Linked DNA regions of Homo sapiens. The protein of the gene in region 2 interacts with the protein of the main gene of each other region in a biochemical or structural test. Each region holds a gene or a part of one and is shown on either strand. Other genes may lie near its edges. The genes, in order: MAX, MXD1, SIN3A and SAP30.

Evidence for each region.
Region 1: the proteins of MXD1 (region 2) and MAX form a complex in vitro, tested with the Homo sapiens proteins (4 studies listed by BioGRID, with this or other methods).
Region 3: the proteins of MXD1 (region 2) and SIN3A form a complex in vitro, tested with the Homo sapiens proteins (4 studies listed by BioGRID, with this or other methods).
Region 4: the proteins of MXD1 (region 2) and SAP30 form a complex in vitro, tested with the Homo sapiens proteins (one study listed by BioGRID).

Annotation. Positions count from the first base shown.
Region 1 is NC_000014.9:65,092,518-65,099,540, forward strand, and holds part of MAX (protein max), read right to left. Parts: intron 1,795-7,023; exon of another isoform or gene 1,299-1,794; coding exon 1,191-1,298; exon of another isoform or gene 1,115-1,190; intron 1-1,114. UniProt on the Homo sapiens protein: Transcription regulator. Forms a sequence-specific DNA-binding protein complex with MYC or MAD which recognizes the core sequence 5'-CAC[GA]TG-3'. The MYC:MAX complex is a transcriptional activator, whereas the MAD:MAX complex is a repressor.
Region 2 is NC_000002.12:69,932,091-69,939,113, reverse strand, and holds part of MXD1 (max dimerization protein 1), read right to left. Parts: intron 6,398-7,023; exon of another isoform or gene 5,921-6,397; intron 3,764-5,920; coding exon 3,649-3,763; intron 1,880-3,648; coding exon 1,720-1,879; intron 1,018-1,719; coding exon 830-1,017; 3' UTR 1-829. UniProt on the Homo sapiens protein: Component of a transcriptional repressor complex together with MAX. In complex with MAX binds to the core DNA sequence 5'-CAC[GA]TG-3'. Antagonizes MYC transcriptional activity by competing with MYC for MAX binding.
Region 3 is NC_000015.10:75,441,669-75,448,691, reverse strand, and holds part of SIN3A (paired amphipathic helix protein Sin3a), read left to right. Parts: intron 1-517; exon of another isoform or gene 518-639; intron 640-948; exon of another isoform or gene 949-1,039; intron 1,040-2,296; exon of another isoform or gene 2,297-2,459; intron 2,460-3,286; exon of another isoform or gene 3,287-5,358; intron 5,359-7,023. UniProt on the Homo sapiens protein: Acts as a transcriptional repressor. Corepressor for REST. Interacts with MXI1 to repress MYC responsive genes and antagonize MYC oncogenic activities. Also interacts with MXD1-MAX heterodimers to repress transcription by tethering SIN3A to DNA.
Region 4 is NC_000004.12:173,366,022-173,373,970, reverse strand, and holds the start of SAP30 (histone deacetylase complex subunit SAP30), read right to left. Parts: upstream 3,018-7,949; 5' UTR 2,789-3,017; coding exon 2,474-2,788; intron 582-2,473; coding exon 456-581; intron 33-455; coding exon 1-32. UniProt on the Homo sapiens protein: Involved in the functional recruitment of the Sin3-histone deacetylase complex (HDAC) to a specific subset of N-CoR corepressor complexes. Capable of transcription repression by N-CoR.

The DNA.
Region 1 (7,023 bases), on a different chromosome or scaffold from region 2:
TACCCAGGAAGGTTGTTATTCCAGGTAAGTACCTTGGTTTAAGGTCATTAAATCAAGTCCACACTAAGTAGGCTTAACCCATGGCAAATTCTGGTTTTGCAATACCAGGTATGTACATGGCCTGTTTTGTTCTTTATAAAGGTCAGAACTTCTCCATGTTTACGCCACATGGAAAGCCACACCTTAGATAAAGTATAGAGGCCATAACTTACCAGAGTGACAATATAAAAAATGAAAGCATAAGGGTTCCAAATTTGATCTTGGATAACCAAACAAATCCAGGACCCCCACCACAGAACTAAATCAAAGTGCACCCAAAAGCAAAGATTGTTCTTAACAGAATAGTTCCTTCTTTATAAAACACTGGATCACTAAAGCAAAAACACAGGTCCTCTTCCCAGCTTGCCAGTTATTCCAATGAATTGCTACAGACAACTACACTCTCTGTCAAGGATGGAACTAGCCATGCAGATGTTTTCTCCAAATTCCAGGGAGTGACCCTAACCCATAGGCTTTTACTCAAAGCTTCTAATTTTGTTTTTCAAATGTAGAAACAGCTGGTGCCTAGCCCTCCAGGGAAAACACTAGGTTCCAGAAGGGAGTGGGGAAGAATGGTTATTTTTTTTCTGTTTCACATGAACATGTCTCTTCACTCAAGTCTTTTGTCCCACAGCTTAAAATGCTCTTTATACGCCTTGGAAATAACAATTATTGGGGCTGGAAAATCAATGGTGCCCAGGTTGTTTTTCACATACATTACACACATTTCTGCAAGTGCTCATTTACAATAAAGTATTAACTTTGAACCATAGGAAAGGAATTCTCATGGAGGTCTAGGGTATTAATGACCTCTGGAATCTTTACTGTTATCCCAAACGAACTCTTGGCCACTCTTTATACTATAGTGTATAGTTATAATTTCTTGAATTTATTACAAATAATACAAATTTTAAAAGATAACTCCTACCATTATCTCACAAATAGCTCCATTATATCTGACATATTTTGTTAAGGATAAACTGGAGTACGTAAGGTGTGCAGTGATCCTCCAAACAGTCAAAAATAAGGCAACCATGCTACCTGAATATCTCTGACTACATTTCCTTCCCAATAGGTGAGTGCTCTGCTAAGCTCTGCAACAAGTTCCAAGCTAGTAGTGGCCAGCTACTCAGCTTTCTCAGGAAACTCACCTTCTCTCCTTGGAGTGATGGGACTGAGTCCCGCAAACTGTGAAAGCTGTCTTTGATGTGGTCCCTACGTTTTCGTTCCAGTGCATTATGATGAGCCCGTTTGTCAGCCTAGAAGAATGGGAGAAAGAACACATTAGGAATGTCACTCCTTTTGCTTGGTACAAGGTGGGTGGGGTACAGCCTGGAAGTACACGCTGTCAGCACTGTCCCTGGCGAGTGGACTGGGAAGGATTTCTCGAGGTGGGCAGTTAGGAGTCTCCAGAATTAGGCTCTGCTAAAGGGGGAGAAAGGGGTGAGCAACGCTTGCGACAGGAACATCCAAAGTAGCTCGATGCATCCAGCTCATGCATAAGTAAAATAAAAGTTATTCAGGGGGACAAAGTGTGACTCTCCTGTAACATCAGTGGTCCCCCCCAACTTGCTTATGTGACAGAAGAGCCACCAGTCTGTGGTTAGGAAGTGACTAGAGAAAGCTCCAGTGGCCCCTTCTTAAGATGTGATCACCTCCACTGTAAGAGATTCCCCAGATGGGTGTCCAGGGGAAGAAAGAGTTAAGTCACTGGTGCTTCTTTAATGTGAAACCATCACCATGAGTCCCAAGCCCACTAAAAGGCACTAGTTTAAGACCTTCTCACCAAATCATACAACAGAAGCTAAAACCTCTATAAAACCTAGATGCATGAATCTGAGATCATTATGACAGAGCTGATAAGATGACAACTGAATTCTGAGTTCCTATTTTTTAAAAGTAGATCCAAGGTGCTATCCTGCCAAGGGCTTCCTTGCACACAGGCAGTGCCTGACAGGCAGTTCTTAGAGGGCACAACTTCTGACACCACATACTCAGAATAAATTCTCTCAGGTACCTGTGGCAGGTCAGGCTAACTGGCAGTATCTAAATATCCAAGTCAAAGCCTTAGCCTGCTTGGAATCACAAAGAACGGTCAGCTGGAGATGGACCAAAACTGCCAACACCAAATCAGGAATGGCAAAATGCTCTGGCTTCAGGCAGAAGAGATAGCGCTGGAGAGCATGATAAGAGCACTTCAGCAGGTCCCCATCAGAGGGGTCTCCCCTCCAAATGGAACACAAACAACCCAAAGCAAGAAGAACTTCATCACACCTACACTCTAGGAATTACGGAAATTATGCTCTGAACATTCACCTTGAATGCACAACGTTGCACTGAGCTAATCTAGAGAGCCAGTCTGTACATGGGAAGTTCAGGTAGCTTAAATCTATACAAACAGAGGGCCAGAAATTCAAAAAATGGAACAAGAGTAAATAACTTGGCTTAGCACAAGAATAATGCTGCCTCACATTAATCCTTGTACTAGAGAAGATGTACAGACAAAAATCTATCAAGAGTTGTGAAAACGAAAGGACTTGAAATTCTCCTGTTATTTAATCCTAAAAGTCCCAGTCATTACAGAGGAAGAGGAGACTGGGAGCACCTGTAGTCATCTGAGTTACTTCCTGGTCTCTTAAACATAATACCTCACCTACAGCTCTGTTGAACTGGACATGTGGTTCCCATGACAACCATGGTTCTCCATAGCATATCTCTCTTTTTGGGGCAGATGCCTGGAGCACTTCTAAAGTTGTCCTAATCTTGTTAAGTCTGGATTCACTGTAAAATGAATGTTTACTGAACTATAGTGACATGAAATATGAAGCTGAGAGGACAGTCAAGTTTGGAACACCACATAACCTGAGGGTAGAGGTAGGTACTCTGTATCATACAACTTTAGCGCAAAATTATAGATGCCTTCTAACAGTAGCATGAAATAGTGCGACAGAATTGAACCTATTTAAGTATCTAGTCCTTTTGAACTTACTGTTGTTCCCTCTGATCATCTACATAAAGATAAGTTGGGCTGCGACTATACCTAAGGAGCTTAAAGGCCAAGAGACAATATTTGGCATGTGTCTGCGGCTCCTGTTTGCTATATACTACCTAAGGTGGTTTATTTACATGCAAATTAATTGCCCATCTTTGGTCTCCAGAGCAGCCCAAGATACTCCTGTCTACTAAATCACCCTGATTCTTGGCCCTCCTCCCAGCTAAGAGCTGTGCACCAGAATTACCCACAATCCCTCTTGTTGATACAAATAAAATTCTAATTGTCTGTTTTCTTTCTGGGAGAGCCCTGCAAATCTCAAACAGCTAGAATGAAGTTGCACTTGGTTTCACGTGGACCTGCACTAAAGGGGTGGAGCTAAGTATAATCTAACACCAAAATCATCCCCACAATGCACTACCCCCTCCCATTCACTGAGCTCTGAAAGGACTCAAATGGACAAGTCTCTCGGTTGGAGGATTGTAAGTGAACTTGGCTGTAGATCATGAGCAGAAATCTTGGCTTCTCATCTGGGGAGCCAGCCAAGTTTGAGAAGTTGGCTCAACAAGGAAAGGCAGCAGTCCACTGCCTGGTAGAAAGCCTGGGCTGGGGACTGTTGTTCTCAAAGTAGTGGATGGAATTTCTGTAGTGGTTCCAGGCCCAATTTAACTAGCAGAAGAGTGGAATCTTACACCAATCCCTGCTGCCATGTCCATCCCTGAGCTACTAGTGGAGTCAATTTTAAATCTCTCAGAGACAATGGCAAGGATGTATTTTTCTCTTCCCCAAGCTTGATTTGAAAGAACAAGTTAAAAACATGCAGAACTAACAAGCCTAATTCCAGGCAACTGTGAATTAAATGTTATCACTAATGTTTTGAAAGAGCACATGAAAAACAGAAAAACCTTTACACAAGGCTGAGAATTCTCTGTGGGAAACATTTCCAAACCACAGATCCACCCAGACCAATAACACTGCCCGCGCCTCATCCCCACCCCCATTGGAGGACTAGTTTGCAGGCTTTATCACTGCCTTGTTAACTGTCTTTGCTTGCTGGCAACCCTTTTTGAGAGGGCCAAGATTTCAGAGTTGAAGAAGAAAAACTGGGTGAAGACTCCCAGTGTAAGGCATCTAATATCCTCCCCCAAATGCAAAACTGGTTTTAAAAAACAAGCCCAAACAATTGTCTTGAACAAATAAAACTCTACTCAGATGAGCCTGTACTGAGAATGATGTTCAGTAATGAAAACAAATGGTACGGAAAACCCCCTTGTGGAATTAATTAGGCCCTATTCTAGGAGACCACAGAGGTATTCTTGGACTGTACAGCAGGCTCCCAAACATCTCCCCTACACATCCTATGGTTACAGTGGCTGGATGCTGCCCACTCTTCTAGTACGCTGGATTTGTACGTCTGGATGTCTGCCAGAAAACCCTTCCTCCAGGGCATCCCTAACAGAAATACTAAGGGGCTATGCAGTGGTCCACAGATGCTCAACAGAAACTCCCGCACCAAATCACTTCCAGCTTTGACATCTCTGCCAAAGTTTTTATTCAGCCTCTCAGTTATATTTCTACCCAACTTTCCACACTGGTAGACAGAATAAAAATCTTCACCTACAATTTGTCCATCTTTGACACTACCAAGCACGTGTATCTTAAGTGTTGTTAGATGTTGAAGACAAACATTATTTTGTTAGCCAAGAAGTTGCTATGTTGGCAAGAAGTCATCTAGGCTAAGGAGGTCTGTTCAAAATTGAGGGAAATCTCTTAAAATTATTTCCTTCCAACTTACTGCAGAGAGACTGCATCTTTGTTCAAGGCATCACATCAGTCAGTAATCTTATTTCCTCCAAGTTCTAGGCAAATAGCACGGGGAAATAAATGCTTCATTATTCCAGGATGCACAAGGTTCTCCAGAACAATGCCATGTCTTACAGGCTACCTGACAGCTAACCCCACCTATAAGGGGAACCATCTCAATTCTAATACAGAAAATTCTCAGCATATAGGGAATTAGTTGCCCACTCAATATTTACTACCTTTACAAAATGTGAAGGTTGTATTTTAGAGGGAAGCTTGTGTTGCTTATGATTCTTATCAAGCTATTCTTATTAGAGACTAAGGACACGAGAATACACAGACCCAAAAATCTCATCCGAAAAGATCTATTTCTTACTTCTGATAGATAAGAACAAGATAGGATAAAGCTCAATTTCTAAGCAACTTAAAATATTCATTTTAATCAACCCAAAAATTATAACATAAAATAATAGGCAGGTAGGATGGGATAAACTCACCAAGCTCCCTAAGAGAAAGACATGGATTTCAATTTTCCAATACCTGTCCTGCTTGTAGCTGATTGCCTGGTATACATTTCCAACATTATCTAATGTATGTATTTGTTTTCAAACTTTTTTCTTTTGGTGCCTAAAATAACTGGCAAATGCTATAATCCAAACAGGGCCTCATACTATAGCCATTTCAGAGAAGGATGCCTTGGTCAGGAAATTTTAATTAAAAACCAAGCTGAATTCTTTGACCAACTATTTCACCGTTACTGGCATCTTGGAAAAATTCTTTTAGACATAAGAACAACTTTTACCCTAACACAGGCACATTTAGGAACTAACTCTGGCATTTGTTATCACTGTAAGCATCACTGTCAACACTCTAAGCAGAGAAAAAGTACATGCATTGTGCAGCACTTTTGCCATGCAACTGACTGCAGGTAAAACAGACAGTAGTTTCCTGAGTGAATTCCAATCTCGGAGGCTACCAAGCTCGTTCTCTTCTGAATATTCCTAAAGAAGCAAAGAGCTCTGAGAAGTTAAAAATATTTCATGCCAGAAAGGTCCAGAAGTGGAATTGCACAAATCTGTTTTCAAACCCCTCACAAGTATACTGCAACTGCAACTCAGTCAGGTGCCATCAAGGATGGTCACTGGAAAAAAAATTGCATTTCCTGACCAACACACTAACCCATACATTTCCTGTATACTTACACTCTTTCCTAAAGAAATTTCCCAAACAGAAATAAAGCAAAAGGAAGCCCTTGCAATATAATATACCTGTCCCACAAATTTATCTTTAAAATGCAACCTCTTCCCTCCAAAATATAATAAAAATAACATCAGTGGGATTTTGCGATGTACTGAATTTAGTAGTAAGAATACTCTTTGGGGTTACTTCCTTTAACAAAGCTTACTGGCCATTGGAGAAGCTGTTTTCCGTTTGTACTGAAGCAATAGAAAAAAATATTTGCCAAATCAGTTTCACTTTCTGTTAGAGTTAGCCTAACTTCCTAACTCTCTTCTCAGTATCTTACATTTCTCATGTAGTAAGGCCTATATATTGTAGTGACATTATAAAACATACATGAATGTTTTTATATTAGGATCCACAGAACCCTTTTCAAATAACTTTTTCAACATCTTCTGTAGTCCTGAATACCTAAGTATTTGGTTGTTCACAGTCCACATCTTTTTTTAAACCTTTTTTCTAAGGCAAAACTTAAGAATAGCTCCCTCTTAAATTTTAAAAAATATATTTATTATCCATATTAAATATTGAGAAGTAAGCAGATGCATTCACAGAGGGGAAAAAATGGAATCCTTTTTACCCTACACAGTCACAATAGTTGTTTGATATACTATAAAATTTGTTTATAACATATCTGCTTTTTCTCTCCATGCTGTTGTAATTACATTGTGCAGAGTAATATTTAGAAATATCAACAAATAGATGTGTTAAATTAAAAACAAAGTGTCAAACCAACTTCCTTTGCCTACCCCCAAAATCAAAAGGAAAAATCCTAGGCACCTTAACAGCAAACTAAAAACATCTAGACAAAACAATGAGATTAGCATTCCAGGAAAGCAGAAACATTATAATAATTTAATAACAAATTTATATCAACGATCATATGGATGAAAATTTTGAAAAGCAGAAAGCTTTCAAGAACTGCGAGCCAAAATTTCACCAAAAAAACA
Region 2 (7,023 bases):
ATGGAGATCTCATTTATCTCTGAGGTAGGAAAAAAAAATGTTCCAGAGACAAGTAGCATTAACAAAGTTGGAGGGGAGAATGTGCCTCGAGATAGCAGAACACAGCGAGGTCCCAAGAACATCGCACAAAAATAGATTGTACCGTTTTGTTTGTGAGAACAAACAATTTGGAACTTTGATGAGCTGTGCAACCCCAGAGACACACTATCAAGGTGTCCATTTTAAAGTGAGAAATACTGCTCCCATCCACACGCGGCGCGTCGGGGGAATGAGCATGCGCGGTGTGAAGGGCGTGTTTTCTAGAGGTATTCCTGACTTCCTCACTGGTGGTGAGGTCCATGGTTAAGTGCTCTTAAATGCTGCTTTCAAAGCTTACTTTGGAGTTCTGAGATCAGGATCTCAATTTCAAAAGTTTGTTTCCTTCAGTTTCCTAAGTACAAGACACACTTGGACATTCCTCCTAGGCAAGTAACACAGTAAGCCAGAAAACTGGAAGAAAGGTCTGGGAGAGGACACGAGGAGAGCAAAGAGGGGGATTGCTGAGATGTGGACATTGCTTATTCGGTCTAAGAATTCTTGGATGCTTCAAATTGATTGGAATGTATAGTCTCTCAGAGACAAATTTTTATGGCGAGAAAAAGAGAAGCTAGTGGATGCAATCAGAAACCCACAATCCTAAGCACCTCCTTGAAAACAGTTACAAAGCTGATTTTGGTCAAGGTGGGACACTGAAGTTTACGTGCAAGGGAGTTGTGGGCAGGTCCAATACGTTACCTAATCAGAACCAACAGGGAGAACCTTCAAGGAGACAGCCGCAGTGCCCACTCTCTTAGAGACCAAGACACGCCTTGTGACTGTCCTGCAGCTTTATTCTCTTGATGCTGGTGCTGGAATAGCCCTCATCACTGCCGAGGCTCTGCATGCTGCCCCGCTCGTCAGAGTCGCTCACACTGCTGCTGCTCCAGTCCAGATCACCTGTGAGATAGTCCGTGCTCTCCACGTCAACGTCGATTTCTTCTGCAGGGAGGACAAGAGAGAAGGACATTGATGAAAGCGCTCTGCAGAAAGCTCAGGCGTGGTGGCTCATGCTTGTAATCCCAGCACTTTGGGAGGCAAAGGCGGGTGGATCACTTGAGGTTAGGAGTTTGAGACCAGCTGGGCCAACACAGTGAAACCCTGTTTCTACTAATACAAAAATTTGGCTGGGTGTGGTGGCTCACGCCTGTAATCCCAGCACTTTGGGAGGCCAAGGTGGGTGAATTACTTGAGGTCAGGAGTTCGAGACCAGCCTGGCCAATATGGTGAAACCTCATCTCTACAAAAATAGGAAAATTTGCCAGGCATTGTGGTGTGTGCCTGTAATCCCAGCTGCTTGGGAGGCTTAGGCAGGGGAATCGCTTGAACCCGGGAGGCGGAGGTTGCAGTGAGCCAAGATCACACCACTGCACTCCAGCCTGGGTGACAGAGCAAGATTCCGTCTCAAAACAAAACAAAACAAACTAGGCTGAAAACTGACACCAATCAAACTCTTCTGGGGTTGTCACCTAAGTGTTAGCAGGGAGAAGGAACCTGTCACTGGAGGTCACACTGTTCGACTTCTCTACATCATACCCAGTGTCTTAGTTCTTCTTACACTCTGCCTCCTGTCCGCAGTACTGAACCCCTGCTCTGGGGTTGGGGAGCACAAGGGAGACAGGGAGGAGAGTGAGAGAGGCTCACCCCTGTCGGAGTCGGAGCGCTCCGAGGAGACGGTGGAGCCGATGCTGTCCATCCGGATCCTCTCAATGCCCAGCTTCTCCAGCTGCCTCTTCAGGTGTCGCTGCTCTCGCTGAAGCTGGTCGATTTGGTGAACGGCTTTTCTGTCACAATCTTCAAGTTTCTGCAAGTCAAAGGGGTAGTTGTTGGGCCCCACAGGGAGATCTCTAAATGGGCAATGGCCCCCGCATCTTCCCTTCTAGCAGTGGAATGCGCCACACTTCCTCAGACGCCTTTCGGTGCCACTCATCAAGCTTCTCCCTGAGACAGGAAGTCGACTGGCCAGTGACTCCTGGCTTCGTCTGACTCTTCAGCATCGCCAGTGCTGGGGGTACTTGTCCTGTCACAGGGATTCTGGGGGTGAGCTCTCACATACTGGCACCCTGGTAGCCCTCAGTTTTAGTATCAGAAAGACTGCAGGCAGCAGTCCCCAACCTGATCTCCCTTGTTTGCAGCAATCCCCTGAACACCTGATCTCCGGACTAGAAAACTGCACTTGATGGGAGCTTAAGAAACACGCTTCCATTTAAAACTATGTTTATTCAAGTACATGTCCCAATTACATAAGCACTTTTTTGTGTCATGCCAAATCTCAATTAACTTCTGTTTGTTAGCAGGAAATAATAGTCCCTTTTGATGTCCTGATTCTAATTTGTCCAACAGAAGAGTTTAGAAAACACATTTCCATAGAATACTCATTTTTATAAATCTGCCCCCAGCTTCTCATATTCTTCAGATAATTAAGAAGATTGTTTAATTGTAGCTGTTTTGCTTTAAATAGAGGTTTTCTCCCAGAATTGTCATGAATGCAGGCTTCTAACCATAATTAAAGTAACATTTGTCCAACTATAATATGATTATACAAACATGCTAAACAGGGATTTTGGCTGTGGCTCTCAAGACTTTGAATCCAATTCCCCTTACCCTTTGCTATTCAGGTAGCAAAGAGAGTGTCAACTCTGTGCCCGATACCCTAGGAGGTGCTGGGGCTGTGAGGTGAGCACAAAGACCCAGTCCCCTCCCTCGTGGGGTGTATAGTCTAAGGATTGAGACAACACAATGGTCACACAAACCACTGTCAAATGTCAGTTATGACAGGGCTAAGAGATACCCAGTGATGGGACCACCTGTCACAGGAAGGAGGTCACTGAGTTGGGAAAGTCAGCGAAGGATTATCAGAGCTAGAGAGACTTGCACTGTGATCTGAAGAATAAGTAGAAGTCCTCTAGGTGAAGAAGAGAGAGGAAAGTGTACCAAGCAGAGGGAAGAGCATTGACAAAGGCCCTAAAGTAAGACAATATGACAGTGCCAGGGACTGGAAGAAGGGCTGGAGAAAGGGGAATTGGGGAACAAGATGGTGCTGCAGAGGCAAGTGAGGACCAGGCAAGGCAGAATCTGGGGCAGACCAGGTGACAGAGCTTGTCCTGAGCCACAGAAGAATTTTAAACAAGGTCACGTGTTGATTTGCACCTTGGAAGGACTGTTCTCAGGAAGCATGGAAAGCAGACGGGAGGGACCCAGAGGGATATAGGGAGACCTCTGAGGATTTTATTGCAGTAGACAGTGGGGATGAAGATGGAAGTAGACCGGTTGCAAAATATTTAGGCCTTGGAGATGGCCTAGATATATGGTTAAGGAGCAGGAGCTATCACGGACTCCTGAATTTCTGGCTTGTACAACTGGATGGAGAGTTGGATGGACCATTTAACCTCTGGTGCATGGGAGTGAGAAACACTCAGTTGGGTTTTGAATATGTTGCATTTGAGGTACCTGTGATTCATCCAATAGCTAGACTGGAGGAGTTCAGGGGAGAGGACTGTCCTGGAGATGTAACAACAGACAAACCCTCACTGAACAGGTAAAGATAAAGCAGCATCCCAACAATACACTTACCTTTATGTGCAATTTGGCTTTTGTTAATAAACTCAACGTAGTGTGTCGACTTGATTCGGGTCCAAGTGGCACCAGCCCCTTCAACTTCTCCAGGCACAAGCGAAGATGAGCCCGTCTATGAAAACAAGACCACAGTAGCATTTGAGAGTTTCACAGTGGGCCAGAAGCACCCCAGGCAGAATGAGTTCTCAAAGAGTGTGAAGTTGCCCAGGCCTTGCGATGGCAAATGCTACCAATGACCTTTTGCTGAATAAACATATTTTGAACCAGACAACTCTGGTGAAAACCAATGAGAAGCAAAATCCAAGGTTTTCGAAGCTAAGTCTATTGATAATACAAGTGCTGGGGTAGGGAATAATATCTGCTATTATATAGTCATTCACATGTGTAAATACTATATACAGTAATGGTCCCTGACTCATGATGGTTCAACTTACAATTTTTTAAATTTATAATGAGTTTATTGAAGTATTAAATGCATATTAGACTTGGGATGTTTTTTATTTATGATGGGCTTCTTGAGACATAACCCCATCATAAGTCAAGGAGCATATATATCTGTGGAGTTATTTGTTGAAGCTTTATTTGTAATAGCAAAGATTGAAACAACCCAAATGACCACCCAGGAGGGAACTGGTTAAATAAATTATGCTACATCCACACCGTGTAGTACTATGTAGCTATCAAAAAGAATGAGAATGTGCTTTATGTCCTATTAGGAAAGATTTTCCAGATATATTGTTAAGTGGAGAAAAGCAAGATTCCAAACTGTGAGTATACCATGCTATCTTAAAGATGGAGGAAAACAAGAATCTATATTCATGTTTTCTTGTATGTAGACAAACTCTGGAATGACACATAAGAAACTGGCTGGGCAGGGAGAAGGCAAGGAACAGTCAGACAGAGATAAGGAAGGAAGTGATGGGGGTTTTTACTGAGTCATTTTTTATACTTTTTGTTCTTGGAGTATGTCAGACTGATGCAATGGCACGGAGTGGGAGAGGGAGAAGGGCTGGATGAAGCAGCAGCCACGGCAACTGACTGAAGAGAGAGCACGAGAGTTGCTCCAACTGAGAAATTTACATTTCCTTGAAATGGTTTGTGCTTTATTCTAGAACCTGGAAAATTCTATGAATGTAAGAAGCAGCTGAGATTTGGGGGTTTTGCTTAAGCTTACCACCTCCTTAAAGCCTTCCCAAGCCATCCTAGCTCACAGTGATTCCTCTATTTTCTAAGCACCACTTAACTGTTTATATTATTCACTGGGAAGTTCACTGTACTGCCTGACTTGTTTCATATTTCTTACTTAACCATTCATTGCAGTCTCCTTAGAAAGTCAGGATTGCAGCTTAATCATTGCTGTGCTGTCACCGTGCCTCAAACACACACATGCTTAATAAGTGTTTGCTGAATGGATTATGTCATCTATTCAACTAGACTTTAAGCTTCTAGAGGACAGAGTCCATCTCTACTGCATCTTTGCACCTTCAGCAGTGCTCAGAGTCTTCAGGTTTTAGATAACATTCATTGCCCACACACAACCTACTTGGAGCAGAGTTCCCTGGGGTCTAGGAGGCTCCCCTCCAGCTGAATTGGGAAACAATGCAATGCCTTATAGGTTTGCCCTTTTTCCTCTTAAGAATTGTACTGTAATAGCAAAAGTTGAAAATATAGACCAAAGAAAGGAAATGGCTTCAGAAAGCTATAGGACAGGTGAATATGCATGATATTAATGTAAGAAGTCAATTCACACTCTCCAGGGAGACTTCAGGATGTTCCCCTAAGGCAGGGCTAGTAAGCAAGGCATTAGACTTCCTTCCTTCTGAGCCTCCTGCCTCTTCTAGGTCATGAGGAAGTTGTCCTAAACTCTCCAAGGGTGCTCTAAGGCTTGGCAAGCTTGGGGAGTACAGCATTCATTTCTGAGCTAGGAAGAGGTAATAGCACAAGGGCTTTACTATTTTGTAAGTCTTTCACTTCTTCTGAAAAACCTGTCCATGTGGCAGAGTCAGAGCAAAGACTCATGTTACAGGTGTGCTCCTCCCACTACTGCATGTGGTGGGGACCAGGGAAGGGAAGAAAACTTGTATGTAAAATATACTTGTTCATCTTGGATAATATTCTTCAAAAAGAGCCATGAAAATAGATCATGTTATTAGAAACACTATGAGAAAGTATAATTTATACATTTATAAATTTGTCTATTTCTTGCCATAAAACTTATAGACTAATTTTCTTTTTTTGTTTTTTTTTTTTTTTTTTTTTTTTGAGACAGAGTTCTTGCTCTTGTCGCCCAGGCTGGAGTACAGTGCCGTGATCTCAGCTCATGGCAACCTCTGCCTCCCAGGCTCAACAGATTCTCCTTCTTCAGCCTCCTGAGTATCTGGGATTACAGGCGCCCGCCACCACGTCCGGCTAATTTTTGTATTTTTAGCAGAGATGGGGTTTCACCATGTTGGCCAGGCTGGTCTCGAACTCCTGACCTCAAGCAATCTGCCTGCCTCAGCCTCCCAAAGTGCTGGGATTACAGGTATGAGCTAATTTTCCAATTAGAAGAAAAAGTTCAAAAATTAAAATTATATTTAGATATTTTTCAGCCAGCTTGTTATTTGCAAAGACTGCATGATTCAGAACAGTGTCATTTTAGTACTTTTATGATGTTGGTTTATATGCAGATATGAGTGTGTGAATTTTTTTAGGAAGTTTGTCCACTGATAAAAATATAATAAAGTCATCTTTTGATGCATTGTCATTTCTAGCCTTATAGGAGTCTTGCCCAGAAAGTGCAATTTTCACTACCCAAATGTGGGTTTCCAAAGAACACTCCTAGTCGTGAAACTAGAAATAAGCCATTTGACTAATTCCAGCTGAGACTAATACTTGTTCATTCAGTGTTTTCTGGCCTAGTTCTACAAAAATAGGACCAGAATTCTTTCTGGATTTTTGCAGAGACCCAAAGCCAACTCTGTCTTTGGCAGTGTCTGCCTTGGCCTTCTCCGGCGCCTCACTGCTGCAGCCTGATGGCTGCCCCCTGCCCACATGCCACTGCCTGCAGACATCCCCACACTGGTGCCCGGGCCAACCACAGGAGAGCAATGAAATATATTAAGTAGACTCAGTTCTATCATACAGTAGTGAAATCCAATCCCTGAACCAGATAAAAAAGCAAACAGACCCCTCTGTTATGTACAGCTCCTACCAAAGCTCTCCAACCCTGACACACACACACATACACAGACACACATACAGACACACAAACTCCTGGGATCTAGAATCCCTCTGCCAGCCCTGAGTACCCACGGAGCTCCCAGATCCAAAACAAGCAGAACAAACACCCGTCTCAGCTCTCTTTTCTCAGTTCTGACTACTCCTGTGCCC
Region 3 (7,023 bases), on a different chromosome or scaffold from region 2:
TGGCTTTCTCTCTTTTCTGGGCAATCCACCAGCCAAGAGTTTGTTAAGCTTTACTTTCTGTAGGCCTTTAAAAAAATAAATAGTATATGCTTTTTCAAAATACACCTTCCTCGCCCCTTGAAAAATAAAAGCTGATATTTATTGAGCACTTACTGTGTCACAGATACTGTGTTAGGCACTAGACTTTTTTTTTTTTTTGAGATGGAGTCCTGCTCTGTCTCCCAGGCTGGAGTGCAGTGGTGCAATCTCAGCTCACTGCAACTTCCGCCTCCCGGGTTCTAGCGATTGTCCTGCCTCAGCCTCCACGAAGAAGAAGCTGGGGCGCCACCACACGCCTGGCTAAGTTTTGTACTTTTGGTAGAGGCAGGGTTTCACCATGTTGATCAGGTTGGTCGCAGACTCCTGACCTCGTGATCCGCCCGCCTCAGCCTCCCAAAGTACTGGGATTACAGGCATGATCCACTGCACCCGGCCGCATAATGTCTTTTTTTCTCATGTCTTTTTTTTTTTTTTTTTAGACGAAGTCTCGCTCTGTCACCAGGCTGGAGTGCAGTGGCATGATCACAGCTCACTGCAGTGTTGATCTTCTGGACTTAAGCGACCCTCCTACCTTAGCCTCCCATGTAGCTGGGACTACAGGTGTGTGCCACCACGCACCTGGCTAATTTTTTTTATATTTTTATAGAGGTGAAGTCCTGCTGTGTTGCCCAGGCTGGTCTCGAACTCCTGGGCTCAAGAGGTCCTTCTGCCTCAGCCTCTCAAAAGTGCTAGGATTAAGACGTGAGTCACCGTGCCCGGTCATGGGTGGCAATTTCTACCTGATGTATTTCTTATTTGCCCCTTTTGCTTTTGTTTTCCCTACCCACTTTTTGTCTTGTATGCTTGTATGTTACCCATATTTCTCAGCATGACAGTGGACCCTTCATGAGTCTTCTTGGTGTCCTCCAGGGCTAGGCTTGCTGACATATGGGCTATTGGAGGATATGCAGGTCCACATCCTTTATTTGCAGTTCTGAAATGCAAGAGTTTTTGTTTTTTGGTAAGTCTAGTTCCACAACTAGTTTTGGGGTACAGCCTGACCTGGGCTATCCTGCATGATGCAGAAATGTGACTGCTTGATTATGGGGAGCTACTCAGCCCTAGCTGGGAGAGAGAGATGATACAGTATATGTACCATATTACCTTTCTAAAATCCAAACAATGCTGATGACTCTAACGGGGATCTCTCCCTCTACCATAGACTAATATGTTTAGTGGCCCACTCAAGGTCTCCACTCGATGTCTCCTCTTGGATAACTAAGAGACATTGTTGACTCTTCTGTGTCTTTTTCATATGTGGTCCATCAGTAAATTTTACTGCTTTATATTCAAAATACTATCCAGAATTAGACCACTTAGGATCTGCATCTCCACTGCCCTAGTCAGTGCCTGTGCATCTCTAGCTTGGATTCTATTCTCCTTGTTTTGTTACTGCGGCTCTTAAATGTGTTCTCAACATAGCAACCCAAGTGATTCTTTTGAAACCTAAGTCATACCGTGTCACTTCTCTGCTTAAAACCATCCAGTGGCTTTCCATTTCAGTCTGAGTATTAAACCTGAGTCCTTATTTAGATATGTCTGTAATGAGCTGGGCGCGGTGGCCCATGCCTGTAATACCAGCACTTTGGGAGGCTGAGGCAGGCGGATCACGAGGTCAGGAGATTGAGACCATCCTGGCTAACATGGTCTCCACTAAAAAAAATACAAAAGAGTTAGCCGGGCATGGTGGCACACGCACCTGTAGTCCCAGCTACTCGGGAGGTTGAGGCAGGAGAATGGTGTGAACCCGGGAGGTGGAGCTTGCAGTGAGCCAAGATCGTGCCACTGCACTCTAGCCTGGGCGACAGAGCGAGACTGTCTCAAAAGAAAAAAAAAAGGATATGTCTGTAATTTCACCATTTTGGGAGCTCAAGTGGGAGGATCGTTTGAGTCCAGGAGTTTGAGACCAGCTTGGGCATCATAACAAGACCCTGTCTCTATAAAAAAATTAAAAATTAGCCAAGCATGCTGGCGCGTGCCTGTAGTCCCAGTTACTTGAGAGGCTGAGGCAGGAGGATTGCTTGAGCTCAGGAGCTTGAGGCTGCAGTGAGCCATGACTGTGCCACTGCACCCCAGCCTTGACGACAAAATGAGACCCTGTGTCAAAAAATAAAAAAACACCTGTAAGAACAAATCTGATGTACCCTCTGCCTGCCACCCTTATCCTAGTACCTCTCTGACTACATTTCTGACTAGTCCTTCTTTCGTTTTTCTTCAGCTACCCAGCCTTCATGCTGTTTTGGAACATGTCAAGCACATGTGAGCCCTCACAAAGACATGAGGGTCTTTGCGGTTGCTGTCCCCTCTGCCTAGAAGGCTTCCTCCACTAATTTCTGCATGACTAGCTCCCTCACTTCCTTTACTCAGAAGTTACCTTATCAGTAGGTATTATCTGACCATTCTTATCTACAATTTCAAAAACTCTTCCTTGCCTTTTGTTCTTGATACCTGTCACTGCCTACTATTCTAAATATTATACTTTGTCTATTGTGTCATCTTTCACTAAAATATAAGCTTCTTGAGGGAAGAGATTTTTGTTTACCGTTGTATCTCCAGCTCCTAAAACACCTGGTGCATAGTATGTGCTCAGTAGATATTAGAGAATGTATACATGAATGAATGATTTGGTTTCCACCACAGACAAGACAAAGCAGTATGCTGAGCATGGTAGAGGATACATAGATGGTTAAAGATGTTATGTGCCCATGTTTGTGTGGGAGCAGAAGAGCTAATGTGATAAAAGCAGTGTGAGATGTGAGTGACACTTCCACCTGTCCTTTCAAGAACTATCTCAAGTTCTATTCTTTGTAATGCTCTATTTTCTTTTCTTTCTTTCTTTTTTTTTTTTTTTTTTCTTTTTTTTGAGACAAGGTCTCACTGTGTTGCCCAGGCTAGAGTGCAGTGGTACTATCTCGGCTCATTGCACACACACACATACACACACCCAGCTTCAAGTGATTCTCCTGCCTCAGCCTCCCGAGCAGCTGGGATTACAGGCATGCGCCACTACACCCAGCTATTTATTTATTTATTTATTTATTTTGAGACGGAGTTTTGCTCTGTCTCCCAGGCTGGAGTGCAGTGGTGCAATCTCGGCTTGGCACAATCTCAGCTCACTGCAACCTCCACCTCCTGGGTTCAAGTGATTCTTCTGCCTTAGCCTCCCGAGTAGCTGGGATTACAGGCACCCACCACCATGCCTGGCTAATTTTTTTTTTTTTTTTTTTTTTTTTGAGACAGTGTCTCGCTCTGTCGCCCAGGCTGGAGTACAGTAGCGCGATCTCAGCTCACTGCAATCTCCCCTTCCCAGGTTCAAGCAGTTCTCCTGTCTCAGCCTCCTGAGTAGCTGGGATCACAGGCGCCACCACCATGCCTGGCTAATTTTTTGTATTTTTAGTAGAGACAGGGTTTTACCACGTTGACCAGCCTTGTCTTGAACTCCTGGCCTCAGGCAATCCACCTGCCTTGGCCTCCCGAAGTGCTGGGATTACAGGCATGAGCCACTGCACCTGGCCTTATAGATATTTTGAAAGATTATATTTCTTATATTAAATAGAGATAGGGTCTTACCATGTTGCTCAGGCTGGTCTTCCTGGACTCAAGCAATCCACCTGCCTCAGACACCCAAAGTGCTGAGATTACAGGTGTTAGCCACCATGCCTGGCCTAATACTTAATTTTTAAAAAACTTTTTCTTTGGAAATAATTTTAGACTTCAAAGAGAGTTGCAAAAATAATACAAATAATAGCCCTATAATCTTCACCTAGATTCCCCAAGTGCATCTTTTAAAACCACAATACAGTGATCAAATCAGAAAATCAACATTGATAACAATTATTAATACATTTTGAATTTAACTAAATTTCTGTTCATTTTCTACCTACAGTAGTAAGAAATGTCTGGGTAACATCAGTGTCACCGAAGTCTGTATTGCCCAGATTGGTCTCAAACTCCTGGGCTCAAGCAGTCTGCCCACCTCGGCCTCCCAAAGTGCTGGGATTACAGGCCTGAGCCACTGCACCTGGTCTGGACTCAATTTTAGTTTTTGAGTTTTGCTTTTTTTTTTTAAAGCAGTACTAACTACTTGTAAAGATGTATATTTCATGACTTTTATTTATTGGAGGTCTTCAAAACAGCAAAGAGAAAATTTATTTTTATTTTTAATTTTATTTTTGAGATGCGGTCTTGTTCCATCCCCAGGCTGGAGTGCAGTAGCGCGATCTTGGCTCACTGCAACCTCCGCCTCCTGGGTTCAACTGGTTCTCCTGCCTCAACCTCCCGAGTAGCTGGGATTACAGGTGTGTACCACCATACCCAGCTAATTTTTGTATTTTTAGTAGAAATGGGGTTTCACCATATTGGCCAGGCTGGCCTCAAACTTCTTATCTCTCGAAGTGCTGCGATTACAGGCATGAGTCACCATGCCCAGCCTGAAAATTTATTTTTTTTCCAAAGGAATAAACTCATTTTAGCTATTACCACTTGTACATCGAAACAATGTTGTGGAGTTTTACTGATCTTATTTTTCCTGTATATTGAAATGTTTTGGTATTTCATCATCCTAGGAATTATTTCATCATTACTCATCAATTCTCAAATATGCTAAAGAGGACTAAAATAATATGACAAAGGGAGAATTATAGAATTGCTTAAAAGGATATGCAGTAGTGAAATAAATCATTAGTTTTACACTTCAGTTTTTAGAGATGGGGCCTCGCTTTGTTGCCCAGGCCGAAGGGCAGTGGTATGATCATAGCTCTCTGCAGCCTCAAACTTCTGGGCTCAAGTGATCATCCCTCCTAAGCATCCTCGGTAGCTGGGACTATAGGTGTGCACCGCAGCCCTTCAGTTTTCTTATTGCTTTTCCCAAAACTTACAGCAACTTTTTTTTTCTTTTTGGATACAGGGTCTCACTCTGTCACCCAGGCTGGAGTGCAGTGGCGCAATCTCAGTTCACTGCAACCTTCGCCTCCCAGACTCAAGCAATCTCACCTCAGCCCTCCAAGTAGCTGGGACTACAGGCATGTGCCACCACACCTGGCTAATTTTTGTATTTTTTTTGTAGAGAGAACGTTTCGCCATGTTGTCTAGGCTAGTCTCGAACTCCTGGGCTCAAACAATCCACCCACCTTAGCCTCCCAAAGTGCTGGGATTCCAGGCATGAGCCAGCATGCCCAGCCTACAGCATCTTTCAAGAAAGTATAAAAGAAGTTGGGAGATACCATCTTAAACATTATGTAAGATGTTAACATTTGGAGAATCTAGGTGAAGGAGTACATGGTAATTTTTATACTATTTTTCAACTTTTAAGCTTTCATTGGACATATTTAAAAATCCATAGTTTTTCATCTTCCTCCTATAATGGCAAAGAGAAGAAAACTGACTACAGAAGACATTTCAGAGGAACTAGTAGATGAATGCTGTGTGACAGTAGTACTCTAGACTGTTAGGATGACGGTAAAGTTATATAAACCAAGTTGTAAAATAAGAGTCTTCAGCCAGGCATGGTGGCGTGCACCTGTAATCCTAGCATCTCGGGAGGCTGAGATGGGAGGATCACTTGAGCCCAGTACTTCAAAACCAGGCTGGGCAACATAGCAAGATTCTGTCTCCACCCATATACATATGTGACTGTACCCTAGATGAGTTTAGAATGTGATTTTTTTTTTTTTTTTTTTTTTGAGACAGAGTTTTGCTCTTATTGCCCAGGCTAGAGTGCCATGGCACAATCTCGGCTCACCGCAACCTCCGCCTCCTGGGTTCAAGGGATTCTCCTGCCTTAGCCTCCCAAGTAGCTGGGATTACAGGCATGTACCACCATGCCTGGCTAATTTTTTGTATTTTTAGTAAAAGATGGGGTTTCTCCATGTTGGTCAGGCTGGTCTTGAACTCCCAACCTCAGGTGATCCACCTGCCTTGGCCTCCCAAAGTGCTGGGATTACAGTCGTGAGCCACCATGCCCAGCGGTGAATTTTTTTTTTTTTTTTTTTTTTTTTAAAGATGGGATCTATCTCACTATGTTGCCCAGGCTGGATTTAAATTCCTGAGCTCAAGCTGTTCTCCTGCTTCAGTTCCCCCAAGTAACTGGCACTATAGGCATCCAGCTAGAATGTGATTTTCTTTTTATAAGAATCAGAACTGGGCTGGGTGCAGTGGCATATGCCTGCAATCCCACCTTCTTGGGAGGCTGAGGTGGGAGGATCGCTTGAGCCCAGACGTTCGAGACCAGCCTGGGCAACATAGTGAGACCCCATTTCTATTTTTAAGAAATGAAAAAAAAAAACAATCAAAACCACTGCACTTTGCCAAAAAGATGTATGATAGTATTCTTTCATCTTTCAAGATATTTGTACACCAAAACTTAGTTGATGCAGTTTGTAAGTGGACAGGTGCCAAAGTTACGTATATGTATAAAGATGGTTAGAAGGAAAAATTATGTAAAAATGAAAAAAAAAATCAGTTTTTTTTTTTTTTTTTTTTTTTTTTTTTTTTTGAGACAGAGTCTCACTCTTGTTACCCAGGCTGGAGTGCAGTGGCATGGTCTTTGCTCACTGCAACCTCTGCCTCCTGGGTTCAAGCGATTCTCCTGCCTCAGCCTCCCGAGTAGCTGGGACTACGGGTGCGTGCCACTGCACCCAGCTAATTTTTTGTAGTTTTGGTACAGATGGGGTTTCACCGTTTTAGCCAGGATGGTCTCAATCTCCTGACCTCGTGATCCACCCGCCTCGGCCTCTGAGAGTGCTGGGATTAGAGGCAAGAGCCACACGCTCAGCCTGGATTGTTCATTCTGATTGACATTTATTAGTCTAAAAATGAGAATGCTTATGATTATGGAGCAAAGAAGATGACTGTTCTCTCCAACAAAATTATGAAGTGAGTTTTCAAAGTATTTCATTTGATGGGCAGAAAGGGAAAAAAAGACCCAGAGGTGATAAGCTAGAACCT
Region 4 (7,949 bases), on a different chromosome or scaffold from region 2:
AGTGTATTTACTTGTAATTGGTATAAATCAACCTAGAAAAAATTAACATGTATAAATGAGTTCATACAATTTGTTGAAAATTTATCATTGATATGTATAATAACAAACATTTTAACTTCAGCACAATAAAATTTACTTCCAAAATCAAAAAAAATTTAAAAAATTTATATAATCCAACATAAATTATTAAAGAATTTAATCTTTTGGGGATAAATAATATAAACTGAGGTCAAAAAAAGAGTAAGTTATGTGACAACAGAGCTGCAAAAATTGTCAATCTAAAATGTAACAATTCAAACTGTGTAAATGCATGTCAACTGGCTATATTTAATTTTGCTTTCATTTTCAGATTTCTCAAATGTTTTAAACACTTAAAAGATTGTTCATATCTTTTTATAAAGGCTTCAGAATGCACTACTTAGGATTTACATTAAGCATAAAAAACTTCCATCTACCTCTGGGGTATCAATATCTTGAACAGGTGAATCACCTCCATCATCATCACTCCCTTTTCTCTTTCTTCTGTTTCGAACACTCTGAATTAAGTTTTTATGATAATCACATATGTAAAGATGCCTTGCCTGAAACAGAAAAGTTTTACACACTGCTTATGATTACAGTAAAATGTGTCTATGTATTAGTAAAACACATATGCCACAGTGAGTTCTTAAAAATAAAGACAGCCAAGATGGGCCATTGTTAAGATAATGGAATATTTATACGTTTAAATCCTATACGCTAAAACATAAGATGTCTGGAATACTGTTAAAAGGATGGTGGATGGGGAAGGAGGGGTTGGTTCCATCTGGGGAAGGGGGTAAGGGAGGGAGGGAGAGGAGAATGAGAAATTCCAACCCTCTGGGTTTTGTCATCAAATTGCAGTGAGGGGCTGGGCGCGGTGGTTCACGCCTGTAATCCCAGCACTTTGGGAGGCCAAGGCGGGTGGATCACTTGAGCTCAGGAGTTCCACACAAGCCTGGCCAACATAGTGAAATCCCGTCTCTACTAAAAATACAAAAAATTAGGCGGGCATGGTGGCAGTAGCCTGTAATCCCAGCTACTCAGGAGGCTATGGCAGGAGAATCACTTGAACCTGGTGGTTGGAGGTTGCAGTGAGCCGAGATCGCGCCACTGCACTCCAGCCTGGGCAACAGAGTGAGACTTTGTCTTAAATAAATAAACAAACAGATAGCAGTAAGGATGACCTGAATTAGTTCATGTTGAATTTTTAACTGATGAGGGGAAAGATGATGTTGCTCACAGTTTTGCTACTTGACAGTACTTTCTCTACTTAAAAGAACAGCATATTTTAGTAATATAATGTATGCTTTCCAGTCTTTCTAACTGAATACCCAAATTATAGTCCAGATACAAAACCATTCGTTTTCACAAATGAGCCATCGACTTCAAAACTATATTTAAATTTCAGTTATACATTTTTCTGAATATTAAATCAATGTATTTATCTATAACACATTTTTCCAAAACAATCTGAAATTATGCAAGTTCACCTGAAGAGTTTCTCATGGATAACACTGAAAACTGTTTAAACGGGCAAAAAGTGTCACAAATAAACTTTTCAAAAACTTTAATTACATATACTCCTGCGAGCTGTAGACTAGCATTTGAAACAAACACGGACTGAGCTAACAGGCTTTTACATTTACTTCTAAGCCAAGCGCAAGATAAAAATATGCAGGACTTGTGGTAGGTTCTCGATACCATGTTATTCATTTACCGCTAGCCAGATCTCCCAAAAGTAGCAACGGCTGTTTCTAAAAACCTCATAGATGGTCAAACGAAAAGACGTGCAAAAAATCCTGATGGCTGCCAAGGGGATGGCAAAACCGCAGAGGCTACGTGCTCCCCACCATCGGAGTAGCTGCCCTCGGAGCTGACAGCGCAAACGCCGTTTACAACCCCGGCTCACTGCCAGGCGGCGGGTGAGCTCGGCTTCCCTCTCACTCCGCTCCGGAGGAGACGGAACACAGAAAAGAACAGGATCTTCCTTGTTCGTGAAGGTCCTCCGCTTTCTCCTAGACGACGGGATTTAGTACCGCCTGGGGCCAAACACCAGCTTGGGCAGCAAAACAAAGGCGCCTCCATTCCAGAAGAGCTGCCGGGCTGCAAGAAAACTACTCTGGGCCCTCAGTGCGCCGGTCCCCTTTGTTTCGTGTCCCGGTCGCAGAGGAGAAGGAAGAGGGAAGACTGCGCGGGAGAGACGCAGGCAGCGGGAGGTTGGGGGCCAGGGTGGGAAAGAAGAGGGGAACGACAGCCTGTGTGTGGTGTGTGTGTTGGGGTGGCGGTAGGAGTTGCAGCGACTTTGTTATTTGCTTCCAAACACAGACTCCACGAGACCGCACTGCAGCCAGTGCGGTTGTCTGGGGGACCCCGCCGACAACCCGTGCCTTTGCCCGGCTCCTGGGGCCCCACCGAGGGGCGGGAGGGCAGGGCGGTCCCGCGGTTTACTTACGCTCTTATCCAGCTCGATCTTCACCTTCTTCTGGGAGATGCTCTTCTGGATCCTCTTGCTGAAGCTGGCGTTGCCTGCCGCCCGGCCGCACCGCTCACCATCCTCCCGCAGGCAGCACAGTTGCCCGGGGCCCGGCCCGGCCGCCCCCGGGGGCCCAGCCGCTGAGACCGCCCCCGCGCCCGGCACCTCAGCCCCGGTGCCCGCGCCGGTCCCGTTCCCCGCCGAGGCGGCGGCGGCCGCGGCAGCGACCACTGCGGCCACTGCGGCGGCCGCATCCCCGCCGCGGCTCATCTCGTCAGGCGTGAAGCCGTTCATGTCTCCGAGCTCCCGAGGCCGGCGCTGACAGAAATCCCCTCTCTCCTGGCCGCTCCGCCTCTCTCCGCTCCGGCAGCGGCAATTCACTCTGCACACCAAGTTAGACAGCGGCACGGCCAAACACCAACTGTCCCGGGCCTGCTGGTCTCTGCTGGCACCGAAACAGTGGACAGTGCTGAGGGCCGGGACGCAGACTCGAGCGTCTCCTGGAGCGGGGACCCCGCTCACTGTCACATGGGGACTTCAGCAGTTGGACCGCTACGCCTCCGCCTCCCTCCGGCCCCGGGACCTGCGCAAGCGCGACGCGCCCCCTCCCGTCCCGCCCCTTTCTTTCTGCCGCGCGGCCCCATGGGAATTGTAGTTCTCTGCTGCAGAGTCAACCTGAGCTCCGCCCTGACCCCGCGCCATGAGGGACGGAGGAACTACTAATCCTAGCATGCATAGCGCGGCCACGGACCCACTTTTTTTTTTTTTTTTTTTTTTCAGTACCGGGAAAACAGGAGCGTGTGATTGGGGTTTACAGTGTTTTCTCTCGCTCTCTCTGTTTCTAGGGAATTCGGGCTGTGTTTAGCTGCTGGAATATCGTAGAATTGGTTTTCAGAGAAGTTCCTCGACTCCTGAGGCGAAACATAAAGGGATGGGAGTGGTGTGGGAAGTGATCGTGTGGGGAAAAAAAAGTTTCGAGCCCGTTTCGCATTTGTGGAGACAGAGTTTTTGGTGTGACCACTCTTTTGTGGGAAACCCAAACCAAGGAGAACTCAGGAGAATTGGCGCTCTTCGGTCCTGGAGGTTCCGCAGCTAACATCCCGGCTTGACCAACTATCGAGGCCGCAAATTAATAGGGCACCTCCTGGGAGGAAAACGCCCATCCTGACTTCTCAACTGTGACAGGTCCCCCTCACAAACGCCTTGCGGGGGGGTGGGGGGGCGTTTCTAAACACTTGCATGTTCTTACAAGGGAAATGTTTTTATTCTTGGGCGCACCAAGTTGGCCGCCTCCTGAGGTGGAGTACGGACCAGTTGACAACAGGGCTCCTTTTCACCTCCACGCCCAACCTTTTCCATTTCTCCTCAAACGGTTTTGGAGAAGGGCGGAGTCATATCATTTTAAAGGAAACTTGGAACCTCACCAATACAAACGCTGGTCGAATGTTCCCAGAAACTTCCCTGCATTAGCTCTACCGGGCGCGGGGAGCAGAAAGCGCATTTCCTGAGTCCTGAAAAGCGCGTGCGCGCCTGTGTGCTGCCGGCGTTTGGGCGCGCCTGCTTGTATGTATGTGTTCGCGGGCGCGCGCGTGTGTACGTGTGTGTGCGCGCGTACGCGTGTATGTTCCTGCGCGCTTGCGGGGACGTGCTTGTGGAGGGCGGAGAGAGGGATGGGCGTGGCTAATATGAAAGCTGCATCTTTACTAGTTAGCTACCATGCGTCATTATTTATCAAAAGATATATGCTGCTTAAACACAAATACGTTTTAAAATATATTTTAGGCAGTAGGGTTTTGGGTTTTTTTTTTGCAAGTTCTTTTGGTGAGTAAATTTAGTGATAAATGATTTTTTTTTCTTTTGAGACAGTTTGCTCTGTCGCCCAGGATGGAGTGCAGTGCAGTGGCGCGATCCTGCAACCTCCGCCTCTCGAGTTCAAGCGATTCTCCTGCCTCAGCCTCCCGAGTAGCTGGGATTACAGACGCGCGCCACCCCACCCAGATGATCTTTTTAAATGCAAAATGCCATCGACGCAGAAAATCAAAGGTATCCATTGTATCTGTGCGTTTGAGTTCTAGGATATGACAAAGAAAAACAATTTAAATATTACGTAAATTCAGTAGGAAAAAGAAAGATGATGACTGATAAGTACATTGTGTACCTCCTTAAGCTGTGCTGTCCAGTAGGCTGTCCTCTAGCCATATGTGGCTACTCAGCACTTGAAATGTGGTTGAGACGGAAAAACTGAATCGTTAATTGAATTTGAATTAAACAAAAACCAAAAACCTGATGCTCGATTCAATTGTTGGAATACTTTTAAGTGTGTTTGCAACAACTCAGATATATGAATCTGTTTTTCCAACTTAAATTTTATGAACTCTAACTTTAGCATATGAATTGAGATGTGCTGTAAGTATATATCAGCTGGACTTTTTTTTTATTTCTGGACTTACTACAAGAAATTTTCAAAAAGAATATTGAAGTGCACATTAAAAATTTTTATATATGTTTAAATGTTTTGGATGTAATGGGTTAAACAAAATATTACAATAAATTGTACCTGTTGCATTAGATAACACTGGCTTAAAGTATTACAACACAGTAGGGCGTGGTGGCTCACGCCTGTAATCCCAGCACTTTGGGAGGCCGAGGAGGGTGGATCATCTGAAGTCAGGAGTTCGAGACCAGCCTGGCCAACATGGTGAAACTCCGTCTCTATTAAAAATACAAAAATTAGGCAGGCATGGTGACACAAGCCTGGGGTTCCAGCTACTTGGGAGGCTGAGGGAGGAGAATTGCTTGAACCCAGGAGGCAGAGGTTGCAGTGACCTGAGATTGCACCACTGCACTCCAGCCTGAGCAACAGAGCGAGACCCTGTCTCAAAAAAAAAAAAAAATTACAACACAGAATAATTATATATTTATGGATACATGTTATATATTTATGGATACATTTTCTTAAGTGGTAAAAATGAGAATATATGGATGGGATGATACATCCCAACTTCAGGGTGATGCTCATCTCCAACGAAGGAGGCCAAGGAATTTGTATATGGTGTCAGAGTAAACATAAAATATAAAGAGATGAATTTCTAAATTTAATGGTTTTTTGGGGAAGCAAGAATTGCAGTTCAGGACATACACACAGACTGAGTGGTCTTTAGTATGTCAGAAGAACAAAGAGAAGGTCGAGAGTTTTATTAGAAAGAGAAATGTTGCTACTGTTTTGAAAGAAGGTTCATTGGCACTATAGTAAAGTTTTGGGAAGCTGGCAAGCTCTGATTGGTGAGTGAGAGTGGTAGATAAAACCAGTCTTAGTCATAGGAGATTGTTTCAGCAACTACTCGGTAAAACTGGTCTTAGAGTTACTGCAGGCCGTTTCAGCAGCTGGGTTGTAAAAAACTTAATTCTTAATGCTAGAGCTGTGTGCCCTGATTGCTTTCTCCCCTGGTCCCTCGATTCTGATTTAGTTGGGTATGACAAGAATGATCCAGATTGTATGATCAATTTTCACACTGGGAATGGCTTAAAGATGGTTTCTTCTGAATTTTAAAGTTTTTATTTATTAAAAATATCTGAAACATGACAGTGGGATGTTGAATTTTCATATTTTTCTTTGTACATTTATGTGTTTTTAAAATAGTTCATGAAATTCATATTGTTTGGTTCTTGTGCTTAAAAAAGCTTATATCTTCTGCAAAATGTGACCAAATCATGTAAATTCAGTAGGAAAAAGAAAGATGCTTACTGATAAGTACTTTGTGAATCTCCTTAAGCTGTGCATGTATGTATATGTATAGTTATCAGTTTCATATGAAGCTTACTCAAGTAAAGAACTGTAGCTATGGCTCCTTTACACACAATACAATGGTTGTAAAAAGATCCTATTAAACAGTCACTTGTTGCATGCTAGAATCTTTTTCTAGGCCCTGGAGGCACAAAAATAATTGAGAGGGTCCTAGCTATTTGGGAGCTTCTTGTCTAGTAGGGCAGACAGGTAGCTTAACAAGCACATAATACAAACCTCAATAACAATAGAGAGAAAGTACAGGCATAGCACATAGGAGGAAATGATTCATTTCTGGCAAGTTGAAAAGATTGCTGGAGTAGGGGACATGTTAATTCTCACTGCCAGATTTAAAGTGTATCTTGAGTGAATCTATTTGTTTAGATACATTTTTACAACCATGTTTTGTTACTTATTTCTACAAATCTTCATATTTAGGGCAGGTATAAGAACTCTTTGATTTGAGTGTAACTCACAGTCAAGGTTGGAATCAGGTTTTAGGGGGGCTTCAAGATTATATAATCTGAAAGGTCTTTTTAAAGAAGTATGTAAAATTATGAATGCAAAATTAAAATTAGGTACAGGACTTCATAAGGGTCTATCCAAGTGAGGGACTCTGAAGTTTGAATCCTTTAGCTTCACAGTAAATCTACCTCAGAGTAGACTAGGTAAAAAATATAGATCTATGAAACCTTAATTATAGGGGGGTTGTTCATATCAACAAAAATGCTCTTTGCTTTCTAAAATGGTTCAAAATATGATTCTTAAAAAAGTATGTATCCGTGCCTGTCTTCCCTATAGGCTTTTAACATGATTGCATTTTTCTGGCTTTACTTTAAAATAAGCAACTAAATAATTTTATTTAATTTACAAAAACATATAAATTGGCCAATAATCCCAACATGACCACAGTAGAAAATTCAAATAATACAAAAAGGTTCATATGAAAAACAAAAGCCTGTTTTACCTCATCTCCTCAAATCCCTGTCCCTTGAAGCAACCAGTGTTAACAGATTATTGTTTCCTTCTAGAAAAAAGTATGCATTTACTAGTATATACATCTCTATATGTGAATAATTCTATATTTTACAGCAAAAGTTCATTCCGTTTTACACCACCTTTCCTTTATCTAGTTTTAAACTCAGCCATCATACAGAAAATTGTATAAAGCATGAATGTCCAGTTTAAGCAGTGCTGTGGTTTCAGTGTTTGTGTGTGTCCCCTCCCAAATTCATTGTGAAACTCAATCCCCAATGCAACAGTACTAAGAGGTGGGGCTTTTAGGAGGTGGTGAGGCCACCCTCATGAATGTGATTAGCGCCTTATGAAAGGGATAGAGGGGGCGAGTTTACCCCTTCCATCTCTTCCACCATGTGAGGATGCAGCAAGAGGCACCATCTTGGAAGCACAGAGCAGCCTCCACCAGACACCAAGATCAAATCTTGATCTTGAACTTCTCAGCCTCCAGAACCTTGAGAAAATAAATTTCTGGTTTTTATAAATTACTGAGTCTCAACTATTTTGTTATGGCGGCACAAATGAACGGAGACAAGCAGTTATGGTAAAATGCACATCCGTATAACTGCTACCCAGGTCAGGAAAGAGAACATTGCTGAAAGGGCCAGCTTCAGGGACTTGCAGTGGCACAGGACCCCAAGCTCAGAAGCCAAC